Homo sapiens: one gene and its partners. The protein of the gene in region 1 purifies or fractionates together with the protein of each later gene. This does not show direct contact. Each region holds a gene or a part of one and is shown in the gene's direction. Other genes may lie near its edges.

Region 1 (4,585 bases):
ATATCCTTACCATATCTTACTTGTTGTTATGGCATCCCTTAATTACAAGACGTAAGGAAAATTAGATTTTCATTTTTTTTTCTTGAGGTGTGTTGATAAGATGTAGAGACCTTTGCATTTTTAGATTTTTATTTGAGACAGAGTCTCACTCTGTTGTCCAGGCTGGAGTGCAGTGGCATGATCTTGGTTCACCATACTCTTCGCCTCCCATGTTCAAGCGATTCTCCTGGCTCAGCCTCCTGCTGGGATTACAGGTATGCACCACCACACTTGGCCAATTTTTGTATTTTTAGTAGAGACAGGGTTTCACCATGTTGGTCAGGCTGGTCTTGAACTCCTCACTTCAAGTAACCCACCCACCTCGGCCTCCCAAAGTATTGGGATTACAGGCGTGAGCCACCACGCCCGGCCTCTATTATGTTTTAATATTTCGAAGGGGTAACTTCCCCTCATTGCTTTATTTTTTTATTTTTTGCTGCTTTTGTTTTTCCAAATAAACTTTATAATCAACTTGTTTAGGATCTCAACTTTATTTTCCAAACAGATGGTATTTTTTATTAGGATCGTATTAAAATTATAAATTAAAGGTAAGGTAAATTTACATTTTAAGTCATTTTTTATTGTGGTTAGATAAACATAAAATTTTTCACTTTAATCATTTTGAAGTATACAGTTTAGAAGCCATTTTTTAAAAATAATTTTTATTTTTTAGAGACAGGGTCTCTGTCATCTAGGCTGGAGTGCAGTGGTGTGATCATAGTTCACTGCAACTTCAAACTTGTGGGCTCGAGTGATCCTCCCACCTCAGCCTCCCAAATAGCTAGGACTACAGACATGTGCCACTACACCTGGCTGATTTTTTTTTTTTTAAGCTAGTCAAATTTAGCAGTGGGGACATTGTATACCAACTTTAGTGATGCCAGTGTTAAGTTCTGATAACTCATTACCATCAGACCAGCCTTGGCTAATTAAAAAAAATTTTTTTTGTAGAGACAGGTCTTCCTATGGTGCCTAGGCTGGTCTCAAACTGGTCTCAAGCAGTCCTTCTGCCTACACCTTCCAAAGTGCTGAGATTACAGGCATGAGCCACTGCACTCTGCTAGAAGTCATTTATTTTTAATCTTTCTAAGGTAATAGGTAAAAATGGTATCTCAGTGTTTTTTTTGTATTTTTTATTATTTATTTATTGAGACGGAGTTTTGCTCTTGTTGCCCAGGCTGGAGTGCAGTGGCACAATCTGGGCTCACTGCAACCTCCACCTCCCAGGTTCAAGCAATTCTCCTGCCTCAGCACCCCCAGTAGCTGGGATTATAGGTGCATGCCACCAAGCCTGGCTAATTTTTGTATTTTTAGTAGAGACAGGATTTCGCCATGCTGGCCAGGCTGCTTATCTCATTGTTTTAACTTGAATGTCTTTCCTTACTAAAGAAATTGAATACCTTTCCCATATGTTTCTGTTTTTTTTTTTTGAGATGGAGTCTCGCTTTGTCTCCCAAGCTGGAGTGCAGTGTGCAGTCTTGGCTCACTGCAGCCTCTACCTCCTGGGTTCAAGGATTTTCCTGCCTCAGCCTCCTGAATAGCTGGGATTACAAGCACTTGCCACCATGCCCAGCTAATTTTTGTATTGTTAGTAGAGATGGGAGTTTCACCATGTTGGCCAGGCTGGTCTCGAACTCCTAACCTCAAATGACCCACCTGCCTCAGCCTCCCAAAGTGCTGGGATTACAGGCATGAGCCAATGCGCCTGGCCGTCCGATATGTTTTTTAACCACTGGTTTTATTTCTCTGGTGATTTGCTGTTTTAATCCTGGGCACTTAGCCTGATAGAATTTCCCATGTTTGAATATTTTATGTTAGATATACTGGAGTGCTTGTTAATAGAGAGTTTTGTTTGATAATCTGCTATCTGAATCAACTTTTGTAGTACAATATTAGTAAGGATCTTTAAGTAATATTAACTACTTTATTGTGGAACTGAGGTAGGGCCACTTAAACCCTAAAGCAGATTTCCTGCCTGGAGAGGCAGTGCATTCTAATGGTCAGTAGCAGGGACATTGAAGTCAAAATATGTAAAGTCCTTAAAACAGAGCTTAGAATATAATAAGCACTGTATTTATGGTTTGATTTTGTTGTCTTGAGCTGATACAGTAAGAAGAAAAATGGAAGAATTAGTGGGATAGATTGATTCTTTTATAAAATTTAAAAGTATTGATCCTCTCTCTTTTTTTCCCATTTAGGTGTGAAATGTTTCTCTTATTCTACGAGTCTGATTGGCCTTACATTTCTGCCATACATTTTTACACAAAATAATGCTATTTCTGAAAGTGTGCCTCTGCCTATTCAAATCATATTCTATGGCATCATGGGAAGCTTTACGGTGATCACCCCAGTGCTGCTTCACTTTATTACAAAAGGCTATGTCATTCGATTGTACCATGAGGCCACAACAGACACTTATAAAGCCATTACCTACAATGCTATGCTTGCAGAAACGAGTACAGTGTTTCACCAGAATGATGTGAAGATTCCAGATGCTAAACATGTATTTACCACATTTTATGCTAAAACAAAATCACTGTTAGTTAATCCAGTGCTCTTTCCAAACCGTGAAGACTATATCCATCTAATGGGTTATGACAAAGAAGAATTTATTTTGTATATGGAAGAAACCAGTGAAGAGAAACGGCATAAAGATGACAAATGAGCCTATTTGTTAGTGTTCGTGCTCAAATGTGATTTACGTTTTAATGTATAATAATAAAATTGCCTTTTGCATTCCGTTAGTGACTGATTGTTAAAAATAATTTGAAATTATCAAAGCTTTTAATTTCCAGAGAATGATGTTTGTTTATAATAAAACAAGCTATGTTTGAAAACCAAAATGTAGTATCTACCATTCGTGTTTTAGAAAGGTATGTGAATAAATATGTTCATGCTAGTATAAGAGTTCTGTGTTACTGTGGTTGACTCTAAACTGGGGATCTGATGTCAGTAGCAAATGGGAGAGTTGCTTTATTCTTTGTGTATGGATTTTTCTAAGTGTATAAATATTTTCCGACATTAAAAGACATTTTCTCTTTGAGGAAGACACAGTCATAGGTGGTGCGGAGCTGTGGTCCACCTGCTCCTGCTCCTGACTCACTGCTCTTTGCTGTTGCCTGAGGACCAAGTCTGTCAGGAAGCTGGCTAGGAAGCCTTGCAGCAGCCATGGCTTTTAAACATACCAGAAAAACACCCGTGGAGTCAGAGGTGGCAATTCACCGAATTCATATCACTCTAACGAGTTGCAACGTAAAATCCCTGGATAAGGTGTGTGCTGACTTGATCTGAGGAGCAAAGGAAAAGAATCAGTGAAAGGACCAGTTTGAATGCCTACCAAGACTTTGAGAATCACTACAAGAAAAACTTACGGTGAAGGTTCTAAGGCATGGGATCGTTTCCAGATGAGAATCCACAAGCGACTCATTGACTTGCGCAGTCCTCAGATAGTTAAGCAGATTACTTCCATCAGTATTGAGCCAGGAGTTGAGATGGAAGTCACCATTGCAAATGCTTAAGTCAACTGTTTTCATAAATTGATTACCAGTTGTTAAAAAATTTTCAAAAAACCGCAAAATTTCAAGAAATTCACAAATTATGGGAGCAGTTTTAAGTCTTCTTTGGTTCAGAACACAGGTTTTTGCCTAACCCCTGGCATGATTGCCCATAAGAACATACATGTACAGTTGAACTGGTGGTTAGCTATACGGGAAATGGTAAGTAGTGTTGTCTTCAGTATCTTAATTTGTTTCTGCAACTGTGCACTCCTCCCTTGGTGGCACCCTATGGGTGTAGGAAAACCACTGTTATTAAACAGGTGAAAAATACCTTGTGTAAAATTGCTGTCTCTATGCTAGCTTTGTCAAGAATATCCATTGTAAGATTTTTACCTCTATTGTAAAGTGGAGATTGACTCTTGCCAAGGATTTTTAGCCAGGAACAAGAGGCCTCAAACCACACTATTTAGATCAGTAGATATTTACTAAGTGCCCAGTACTGTGCTAGTTACTAAGATCACAGTTAAGAATGAAACACCCCGTCTGTCTTTATGGAGCTACCTAACATTGTCTATGGCCACCATGATAGTAAATTTAAACTTTATGGCGTACATGTGTATGAGGGAGGTTGATGGGGAAGCAGCAGGAACATCTGTTCAAAGAGATCATTCAACTCCCAGGCTGCTCGAAACTTATTCATAGGAGATAAGACAGAAAAGCTGTCTTTCTGAGACGTAGAGCCTGCCCTCTGCTTGGATTGTCCAGCTCACCAGACTGAGAATTCCCACCGCCATTCCTCTGTGCCATCTTCTGCTCAAGGTGGGTTTTTGCCTGCTTGCTTCTCTGTCCTTTGTCCCCTAGATGTATCCTAGCAATGAATGAGAGATGTGTTTCTATTTTTTTCATAGCAACCTACTAGATAAGGGAAGCTTGTCCAGCCTGCAGCCCAGGACGGCTTTGAATGTGGCCCAACACAAATTCGTAAACTTAAATTTTATTTTTGAGATTTTTTTTTTAAGCTCATCACTATCATTAGTATATTTTATGTG
Region 2 (3,500 bases), on another chromosome or scaffold:
TTTTTTTTTTTTTTCTTTTTTGAGACGGAGTCTCACTCTGTTGCCCAGGCTGGAGCGCGGTGGCACAATCTCAGCTCACTGCAACCTCTGCCTCCCAGATTCAAGCAATTCTCCTACCTCAGCCTCCCGAGTAGCTGAGATTACAGGCACCCGCCACCATGCCCAGCTAATTTTTTGTATTTTTTAGTAGAGACGTGGTTTCTCCATGTTGTCCAGCTGGTCTTGAACTCCTGACCTCAGGAATTCACCATCTTTCAATTCAACATGCATAGTTCACCATCTTGAATTGGAAGCCCTTGCTTTCATTATTTTGTAAAAGGTTTTTTTTTTTCTGATTATAAAAGTAATTTGATGAGTTGGGTGCGGTGGTGTGCGCCTGTAGTCCCAGCTAATTGGGAGGCTGAGGCGAGAGGATCACTTGAGCCAGGAGATCCAGGCTGTGGTGAACCGAGATTGCACCACTGCCCTCCAGCCTGGGTGACAGAGTGAGACCCTGTCTCAAATAATAAATAAATAAAAGTAATTTGTTTTTTCTTCAAGTTACCCTGCTGCACAGAGAGAACTTCATTAACATTTTGGTGTATTTACTCCTACTATTTCCCTTCAGATAGCCGAAGAAAAATAATAGTTTAGAGAATTTCACATGGGTGTCTGCACAGCCCAGGGCGGGAAGTGGTGTTCATCACCTGGAGACCCTGGTCTGGACCTGGCTCCTCTCTGTGAACCCCACCTGGGCCCACCTCTCCTCTCCTGGAGCCCCAGCAAGGGTTCCCAGCTCCAGTGAGTCCTCTCACACCCAAGGTGGTGATGCTGTCCTCTCCCCAGAGGACAGGCTGAGAAACACCGGGCTTGTGGTTGCATTCTCAGGTGTCTGAATTCTCTACAGGAAGATTTGCATGTTCTGCCTTTGGTTTGATGACAGTCTGGTTGCCCAGGCATGGCCCTGATGCCTCACAGCCTGGGTCTGTGCCTGTGGTAGGGAGTTCGGGTGCCAGCTGTGTGCTGAAGTTGTAACTGCTCCTGCGCCTTTTGTAGTTTTCTTCACTCCATCTTGGCTGGATTTGGGAGGATCATGTGTTCTCGAGTGTGAGAAACACAGGCAACCACGAAGCGTTTGACTTACTGACACACACATTGGGTTGGACCCTGGTGATGCCGTGTCTGAGGAGTCTTAGGCCGGGTCTCCACCTCTTCTGTGGCCGGCTTTTTCGATGTACTTTATCTGCAGTAACGTCACAGCCCTCCAGAATCCGCCCGGTCTCTAGAGCACAGTGGAAATTCCTTCTGCCCAGAAGAGCCATGGTCTGCCCTTTGTGGCTCCCAGCTCCACTCCCCTCGCCTCTCCCACCGTTTGCTGGTGGTTTGGCCCTGGGCTGGCTTCCGCGGCCTCCGCGCTGGCACAGGTCTTCCCTCCCAGGCCTGGGCCTTTCCAGCTGGTTGGGCAAGGCTGAGATAAGGATGTAGACTTGAATTCACTGCTAGCTGGGGGGTTGGTTTTGTTTTTGTTTTTTTAAGTATTATTTTTTTAACACATTTCAAGTCAAGAAAGTGCTTTTTAATGCCTGATTCACCGTAATGGCTGGGCTAGGTTGGAGGCAGTACTGACGTGAGGCCTGGAGCGGCCCTGGGACCTAAGCAAGGCACCGCCGCCGGGCTGCAGAGCAGGGCTGCAGGTGCACTTAGCTTCTCCCATACCCCCCTCCGCAGCAGTGGTCTGAGAGCCTCCATCGGCCAGGTACGGTCAGGCCCTGCACAGTCAGGCCCTGGGCTAGCATGATGGGGAGACAAGTGAGGCCCCTGTCTACGCTCCGGTGGGAGGGAGGCATCAGCACAAGCACACACAGACATCTCAGATCCTTTAAAGACGCTGATGAGGTTGAGGTGATGTTGGACAGTGGCAGGGGACGGGGGTGGGGCCGGGGGCAGGGGCAGGGGCAGGGGCGGGGGTGGGGATGAGCTTCCTCCAGTGAATGCGATATTGTGAGCTGGTTGGCGGAGCTAAGTTTTGGGGTGAGGCTCTGTGGACCGTGTTGAAGTCCTGGCCGGCTCTCACCCCAGTAGGCACACAGGCACACAGCACCATTGGGGTGATGTGGCTGGGGGTGTCCCAGAGCTGTGCAGGGAGGGTCTCACAGTGAGACTGGGTGCTGGGCAGTGACTCGGTCTGTGGGTACAGGGGTCAGCAGAATGGGAAGCAAGCCCAAGGAGACACATTGGCACCAGAATGAAGACAAGGCCGGCCGGTGCCTGTAGCATGTGACTGCCCCGTCTGCAGAGAGGCTGTGCTGCGAGCCCCACCCTCTGGGGGCTTCAGGCCGAGTGGGGATGTCTGGGTGCTGACCCAGGCATCGCAAAGCACACTTCCTGCCGGGGTAACTGCTGATGATTTTTAGGTCTGTTATTTCAGAATCGTTATAGCTAGGGGCCATTATTTTGAAAACCTGAACAAAAAGAATTATTCACTGTGTTAATACCACATTTAGTGACTGTTGAGCTGAATGTGGCTGAGCAGAAGAAAGCACCTGCTGTGCTGATGGCTGACTGTGGACCCGGACCGGGACCCTGAGTGCTGCCCCACTCGAGGGAGGGGCCCAGAGCAGCCTCCTTCCTCTCCTCCCAGGCGAGCCTTTCATACCTGTCCTTCTCTCAGACTTTCCCTCCTACTTCATGCTCGCCCATGCCTGTCACGCAGACCCTGCCTGACCTGCACCTGCTCCCACACCCGTGGTGGATGAGCCCCATCACCCGTACCTGTACCCCCCTCACCCGCTCCTGTACCCCCTCACCCGCTCCTATACCCCCTCACCCACACCTGTACCCCCCTCACCCGCTCCTGTACCCCCTCACCCGCGCCTGTGCCCCCTCACCCGTGCCTCTGCCCCCCTCACCCGCGCCTGTGCCCCCCTCCCCAGCGCCTGTGCCCCCTCACCCACGCCTGTGCCCTCCTCACCCATGCCGGTGCCCACCACACCTGCGCCTTTGCCCCTTCACCTGTGTCTGCACCGCCCTCACCTGTGCTGCCTTCACCTGCACCCCCTCACCCACACCTGTGCCACCCTCGCCCGCACCTGTGCCCCCCTCACCCACGTCTGCACTGCCCTCACCTGTGCTGCCCTCACCTGTGCCCCCCACCTGTGCCTGTGCCCCCCTCACCTGCTCCTCCCTCACCTGCTCCTCCCTCACCTGCTCCTGCACCACCTTCACGTGCGCCCCCCACCTACATCTGCACCTCACCTATGCTACCCTCACCTGTGCCCCCCCACCCGCACCTGTGCCCCCCTCACCCACGTCTGCACTGCCCTCACCTGTGCTGCCCTCACCTGTGCCCCCCACCTGTGCCTGTGCCCCCCTCACCTGCTCCTCCCTCACCTGCTCCTCCCTCACCTGCTCCTGCACCACCTTCACGTGCGCCCCCCACCTACATCTGCACCTCACCTATGCTACCCTCACCTGTGCCCCCCCACCCGCACCTGTGCCCCCCTCACCTGTGCCTGTGCAGC
Region 3 (3,500 bases), on another chromosome or scaffold:
ATAGGGATTTGTAATTTTGGGTAACTCAGTATCTAGTTTTATGCTATTATGATCATAGAAACACTATTGTCAGCTGACTCATGTAGCATATTGGGATTGTTTTTCCTTTCCAGTACAAACTTTTTGTTTTCTCTGAAGTTAATAATTGTTCCATCTTTTCTCTTGTTTAGTTTTCTATGTGCTTACTAATTTACCCCCAGACTCTTCCCAAGCTGTCTGAATCTCCTCTCAATACATGAAAGCAGATTGGACATTCTATCCCTTTTGGTCTTCTTGACGAAACTTCTTCCAGAACTTGCGACATGCTGTAGTCTGGATTTGTGAACCTCTTGGCCTACTGTGAAGCTGCTCTCCTGTGCTCTTTCACCATCAGCTGGGGCATCTGTCATCTCTCTCTCATGTTGGGACTCGTGTTTCTTGTCTTTCATATTTTCTTATTTCTTGGCTTTTTCTTTTTCTTTTTTTTTTTTTTTAAATCAGAGCACATATTCCCTGTACTATCTGGAAACAGAATATGGGAAGCAAAAATTTTAAAATGGCCCTTATACTTCATTGATAATTTGTTTGGCTGGGTTTGAAATTATTTTCCCACAGAATTTTGGAGGCTTTGCTCCATTGTCTTTTAGCATCCAGTGTTGCTGTTGGTAAATCTAATGTTATTCTGAGACTTAATCTTTTGACTACTTCTTCTCTCTGCCTTTGGAAGCTTTTTAGAATTTTCTCTTTGTCCCCAGTGTTTTGAAATTTCAGGTAATGTGTTTTAGTATGTGTTGGGCCACTCTGTGAGTCCTTTGAATCTGGAATCTCATCCTTCAGGTCTGGGATATTTCCTTGTTTTATTTCTTTGGCTTTCTTCCTCTCCATTTTTTTTCTCTGTTTTTTCTTTGTGGAACTCTATTATTATTCAGGTGTAGAATTTCTGGGTCTCATCCTCTAATTTTCTTTTCTCTCACATTTTTCATCTCTTACTCTTTTTGTTACATTTTCTTGGGAGACTTACTTAATTTTAATCTCTCAACCTGTTTTTAAAACTCCTGCTTTCCTATTTTTTACTTCCACAAGCTCTTTTTTCTTCTTATGGTGTTCTTTTTAAAAATAGTTTATCTCTGATAATTTTTTTTTAAGATCTCTTCTCTCTTCATAGTCTGTTGCCTCCAAGTTGCTTTTCTTCTGTTTGCTTTGCCCTTTTCTTTCTTCAGATGCTTCATAATCCTGTGTTGTCTTCGATATGAGTGAGATATTAAAAAGCTCTTGGAAGCTATGTGGATGGGGGTGAGGCTTGTCAGTTACAGGCTTTGCTCTAATGTGATTGATATGGTTTGGCTCTATGTCCCCACCCAAATCTCATCTTGAATTGTAATCCCCACGTGTTGAAGGAGGGACCTGGAGGGAGGTGATTGGATCATGGGGGCAGTTTTCCCCATGCTGTTCTCATGATAGTTAGTGGTTTCTCACGAGCTCTGATAGTTAAAAAGTGTTCAGCAGTTCCCCCACTTGTTCGCTTTCTCTCCTGCTGCCACATAAGATGTGCCTTGCTTCCCCTTCACCTTGCGCTGTGATTGTAAGTTTCCTGAGGCCTCCCCAGCCACAAGGAACTGTCAGTCAATTAGACCTCTTTTCTTTATAAATTACCCAGTCTCAGGTGGTTCTTTATAGCAGTGTGAAAATGGACTAATATAGAAAACTGGTACCAGGAGGGGGGCATTGCTACAAAGATACCTGAAAATGTGGAAACAACTTTGGAACTGGTTAATAGGCAGAGGTTGGAACAGTTTGGAGGGGTCAGAAGAAGACAGGAAGATGTCAGACAGTTTGGAACTTCTTAGAGAGTTGAATGGTTTTGACCAAAATGCTGATAGAGATATGGACAATGAAGTCCAGGCTGAGGTGGTCTCAGATGGAGATGAGGAACTTATTGGGAACTGGAGCAAAGGTCACTCTACTGTGCTTTAGCAGAGAGACTGGTGGCATTTTGTCCCTGTCCTAGAGATCTGCAGAACTTTGAACTTGAGAGGGGTGATTTAGGGTGTCTGACAGAAGAAACTTCTAAGCAACAAAGCATTCAAGATGGCTTTTTCTGAAAGCATATGGTCATATGCATTCACAGAGAGATGATGTGAAAGTGGGACTTATGTTTAAAAGGGAAGCAGAGCATAAAAGTTTGGACAATTTGCAGCCTGACCATGCAGTAGAAAAGAAAAACCCATTTTCTGGGGAGAAATTCAAGCCACAAGCTGCAGAAATTTGCATAAGTAATGAGAAGCCAAATGTTAATAGCCAAGACAATGGGGAGAATGTCTTGAGGGCATTTCAGAGATCTTTACAGTAGCCCCTCCCAGCATAGGCCCAGAGGCCTAAGAGGGAAAAATGGTTTCCTGGGCCCTGCTGTTCTGTGCAGCCTCGGGACATGGTGCCCTGTGTCCCAGGCACTCCAGCTCCAGCCATGGCTAAAAGGGGCCAAGGCACAGCTCTGGCCATTGCTTCAGAGGGTGCAAGCCCCAAGCATTGGAGGCTTCCCCATGGTGTTGGGCATGCAGGTGTGCAGAAAACAAGAGTTGAGGTTTGAAAACCTCGTCCGGCCGGGTGCGGTGGCTCACGCCTGTAATCCCAGCACTTTGGGAGGCCAAGGCGGGTGGATCACAAGGTCAGGAGATCGAGACCATCCTGGCTAACATGGTGAAACCCTGTCTGTATTAAAAATACAAAAAAAATTAGCCGGGTGTGGTGGCGTGCACCTGTGTCCCAGCTGCTGGGGAGGCTGAGGCAGGAGAATAGCGTGAACCCAGGAGGCAGAGCTTGCAGTGAGCCAAGATAGCACCACTGCACTCCAGTCTGGGTGACAGAGCAAGACTCCATTTCAAAAAAAAAAAAAAAAAAAAAGAGACAACCTCCTCCTACATTTCAGAGGCTATATGGAAACACCTGGATGTCCAGGCAGAAGTCTGCTGCAGGGGTGAAGCCCTCATGGAGATCCTCTACTAGGGCAATGCAGATGGGAAATATGGGGTTAGAGCCCCCACACAGAGTTCCCAATGGGGAGCCTAGTGGAACTGTGAGAAGAGGGCCACTGCCCTTCAGACCCCAGAATGGTAGATCCACCGACAGTTTGCACCATGTGCCTGGAAAAGCCACAGGCATTCAATGCCAGCCTGTAAAAGCAACCATGGGGCTGTACTCTGCAGAGCCACAGGGGCAGGGCTACCAAAGGCCTTGGGAGCCCACTTCTTACATCAGCATGCCCTGGATGTGAGACATGGAGTCAAAGATTATTTTGGAGCTTTAAGATTTAATGGCTGCCCTGCTGGATTTCAGGCTTGCGTGGGGCCTGTAGCCCCTCTGTTTTGGCCAATTTCTCCCTTTTGGAATGGGAGCATTTACCCAATGCTTGTAACACCAGTGTATCTTGAAAATAACTAATTGGTTTTTGATTTTACAGACTCATAGGCAGAAGGAACTTGCCTTTACTCAGATGAGACTTTGGCTTGTAATTTTGAGTTAAT
Region 4 (3,500 bases), on another chromosome or scaffold:
TTACTCTTCCTTCACCTTTAACCTTGGAAATCCATAGCAGCCCTTAAAGAGCTCCCTTTTCTTCTGGGGCAGAAAGGAGAGGGGCCTATCTGCAAAAGAGTGAGATGGGACTCCTGCATAAACTTGCTGAATTGCCTCTTAAGCAACAAAGGAAAGGAACAAATAGCTAATTTATTGAGCCTGTCCATATCCTGTTCTGAGGAAGGTATAGGAGTTGGCTGAATTTTTCACTACTGCCCTATGAAGTAGATTCGTGTTTATCTCTGTTTGACACATGAGGGAATTGAAGAAAAGTGTATCTGGCTGGGCGTGGTGGCTCATGCCTGTAATCCCAGCATGATGGGAGGCCGAGGCAGGTGGGTCACCTGAGGTCAGGAGTTCGAGACTAGCCTGGCCAACATGGTGAAACCCTGTCTCTACTAAAAATACGAAAATTAGCTGGGCGTGGTGGCGTGGGCCTGTAGTCTCAGCTACTTGGAGGCTGAGGCACAAGAATCGCTTGAACCCAGGAGGCAGAGGTTGTGGTGAGCCAAGATCGTGCCACTGCATTCCAACCTGGGCGACAGAGCGAGACTCTGTCTCAAAAAAAAAAGAAAAGGGCATTGAAGTGGAGGGCATGGGAACTGGGTTCTGCAGGCTGGCTGCGAGCCAGTCCTTCTCCCGTCAGGCAGTGTGCAGTCCATGGTGGGCATCTGCAGGAACACAGATGGAATGTGTATATCCCATGCCACTGCCTGAAAAGAGAAGCATGGGCCAGAGTGACCTGTTTCTTTTTCCTTTTTTTTTTTTTTTGAGACAAGGTCTTACTTTGTCACCCAGGCTGGAGTTCAGGGATATGATCTCAGCTCACTGCAGCCTTGACCTCCCTGGGCTCCCACCTCAGCCTCCCAAATAGCTGTAACTACAGGTGCATGCTCCCACACCTGGCTAATTTTGGTATTTTTTATAGAGATGGAGTTTCGCCACGTGTCCAGGCTGGTCTCAAACTCCTGGCCTCATGTGATCCTTCCGCCTCGGCCTCCCAAAGTGCAGGCCACCATGCCTGGCCTGAAGTGGAAACTTGATAATTCCAGAACGGAAACTTGATATTACTGCAATAAGCAAGGTGGATATATTGAAACAATTAAAATTTAAAAAGTTGTTAACCTCTGTTAGGCTCTGGACCTAAGGCCTGTTCCTCCTTTTGTTCCAAAGGGACGGTGGCAAATGTTAGGTTCACTCGTACCCTGTCAAGACCTTCTGGTTAAGATCATCTACAGCAGGGGTCCCCAATTCCTGGGTCACAGACCCATACTGGTCCAGTGGTCCCTGGCCTGTTAGGACCTGGGCTGCACAGCAGGAGGCAAGCGTAGGGTGAGCGAGTGAAGCTTCATCTGTATTTACAGCAACTCCCCATCACTTGCATTATGCCTGAGCTCTACCTCCTGTCAGATCAGCAGCATTAAATTATAGGAGCACGAACCCTACTGTGAACTGCACATGCAAGCGATTTAGGTTGGGCACTCCTTATGAAAATCTAATGCCTGATGATCTGTCACTATCTCCCATCACCCCCAGATGGGACTGTCTAGTTGCCAGACAACAAGCTCAGGGCTCCCACTGATCCTACATTACAGTGAATAGTATAATTATTATATTACAATGTAACAATAATAGAAATAAAGTGCACAATAAATGTAATGAGCTTGAACAATCCTGAAACCATCCCCACCCTAGCCCCACCATATCCATGGAAAAATTGTCTTCCACGAAACTGGTCCCTTAGGCTAAAAAGGTTGGGACTGCTGAGCTACAGGTTTGAAACAGAATTGCAAAGGGATTTGGTGTTTTTACCAAGAGTTTTATCTTACTTAACTCTATGTCTTGTTCCCACCTGTCAGAGTGGAAGGTACTGCCCAAGGTTAGTGGGTCATCTAAGTGTTGATACCTACCCCTGGTTTCCAGGGTATGCCTATACTGGGTTTTACTTGTTTGTTTATTTATTTATTTTTTGAGACGAAGTCTTGCTCTTGTTGCCCAGGCTGGAGTGCGATGGCGTGATCTTGTCTCACTGCAACCTCCACCTCCCTGGTTCAAGCCATTCTCCTGCCTCAGCCTCCCGAGTAGCTGGGATTACAGGCGCCCCACTAATTTTTGTATATTTAGTAGAGACGGGGTTTCGCCATGTTGGTCTTGAACTCCTGACCTCAGGTGATCTGCCTGCCTTGGCCTCCCAAAGTGCTGGTATTACAGGCATGAGCCACCATGCCTGGCCTTACTTGCTTATTTTTATTTTATAAGGTGGGTTTGTGTGTATACACACACACACACACACACACACACACATTTTTTTTAAGAGATATGGTCTCACTGTGTTGCCGCAGGCTGGTCTCAAACTCCTGTGCTTGAGTGATCCCCCCGCCTTAGCCTCCCAAGTTGCTGAGATTACAGGCACAAGTCATTGCTCAGTTCTTTTTGTTTTTAAACAGATTAGCACTTTAAGAAATTGAGCTATAATTTACATACCATAATATTCACTCATTTGATTTAGTAATTTTTTTTTTTCTTCTGGAGACATGGTCTCCCTCTGTCATCCAGACCGGAGTGCAGTGGCCCAGTCACAGCTCACTGCAGCCTTGAACTCCTGGGCTCAAATGATCCTCCTGCTTCAGCCTCCCGAGTAACTTCAACCACACGCAAATGCCACCACACCTGACTATATTTTTAAATTTTTTTGTAGAGACGGGGCCTTACTATGTTGTCCTTGCTGGTCTCAAACTCCAGACTTGAAACAGTCCTCCCACCTTGGCCTCCTAAAGCACTGGGATCACAGGTGTGAGCCACCATGCCTGGCCTGATGTAGTGATTTTACGTTTTCACAGAGTTGTACAACCATCATCACTATAATTCAAGAACGTTTTCATCACCCAGAAGGAAACCCTATACCCATTAGAAGTTACTCCCCATTCCCTCTCCTCCAGTCCCTGGCAACACCCAGTCTGCTTTTTGTGTCTGTGGATTTGCCTGTTCTGGATATTTCATGTCATTGGAATCGTGCAATATGAGGCTTTTCGTGTCTGGCTTCTTTGACGAGACATCATGTTTTTGAGGTCTATCTCCATTGTAGCATGCTTCAGCACCTCATTCCTTTCTCTGGCTGAGTAATATACCACCATGCGCACAGACCATTTTATCCATTCATCTGTTGGTAGACTCCGTCTCCTTTTCTTTGTTCTTGTGATTTATTTGTTGAAAACTCTGGGTGTTTGTCCTCTAGTTGACATTCTCTTCCCTAGTAGGGATTTTGCAGATCACATCCCCATGGTGTTGGTTAAGGTGTCAGAGCTGTGCTGTGCAATACCATAGTCACTCGTCACACATGGCTATTTACATTAACAAATTAAAATGAAATAAAATTACACACTCAGTTCCTCAGCCACACTGCCACACTTCAGCTGTGTGATAGCCACAGAGGCCAATGGCTTCTGTACTAGGCAGTGCAGATAGAGAACGTTTCATCA

The links. The genes of interacting proteins can lie anywhere in the genome.
Region 2: the proteins of TMEM70 (region 1) and MAEA purify together in Homo sapiens (affinity purification with mass spectrometry; 2 studies listed by BioGRID and IntAct, with this or other methods). This does not show direct contact.
Region 3: the proteins of TMEM70 (region 1) and CPT2 purify together in Homo sapiens (affinity purification with mass spectrometry; one large-scale study listed by BioGRID and IntAct). This does not show direct contact.
Region 4: the proteins of TMEM70 (region 1) and ARMC6 purify together in Homo sapiens (co-immunoprecipitation; one large-scale study listed by IntAct). This does not show direct contact.

What each region holds. Positions count from the first base shown.
Region 1 is NC_000008.11:73,978,918-73,983,502, forward strand, and holds the end of TMEM70 (transmembrane protein 70, mitochondrial), read left to right. Parts: intron 1-161; exon of another isoform or gene 162-254; intron 255-2,237; coding exon 2,238-2,704; 3' UTR 2,705-3,866; downstream 3,867-4,585. UniProt on the Homo sapiens protein: Scaffold protein that participates in the c-ring assembly of mitochondrial ATP synthase (F(1)F(0) ATP synthase or complex V) by facilitating the membrane insertion and oligomer formation of the subunit c/ATP5MC1 through its interaction.
Region 2 is NC_000004.12:1,292,891-1,296,390, forward strand, and holds part of MAEA (E3 ubiquitin-protein transferase MAEA), read left to right. Parts: intron 1-3,500.
Region 3 is NC_000001.11:53,203,324-53,206,823, forward strand, and holds part of CPT2 (carnitine O-palmitoyltransferase 2, mitochondrial isoform 1 precursor), read left to right. Parts: intron 1-3,500. UniProt on the Homo sapiens protein: Involved in the intramitochondrial synthesis of acylcarnitines from accumulated acyl-CoA metabolites.
Region 4 is NC_000019.10:19,036,603-19,040,102, forward strand, and holds part of ARMC6 (armadillo repeat-containing protein 6), read left to right. Parts: intron 1-3,500.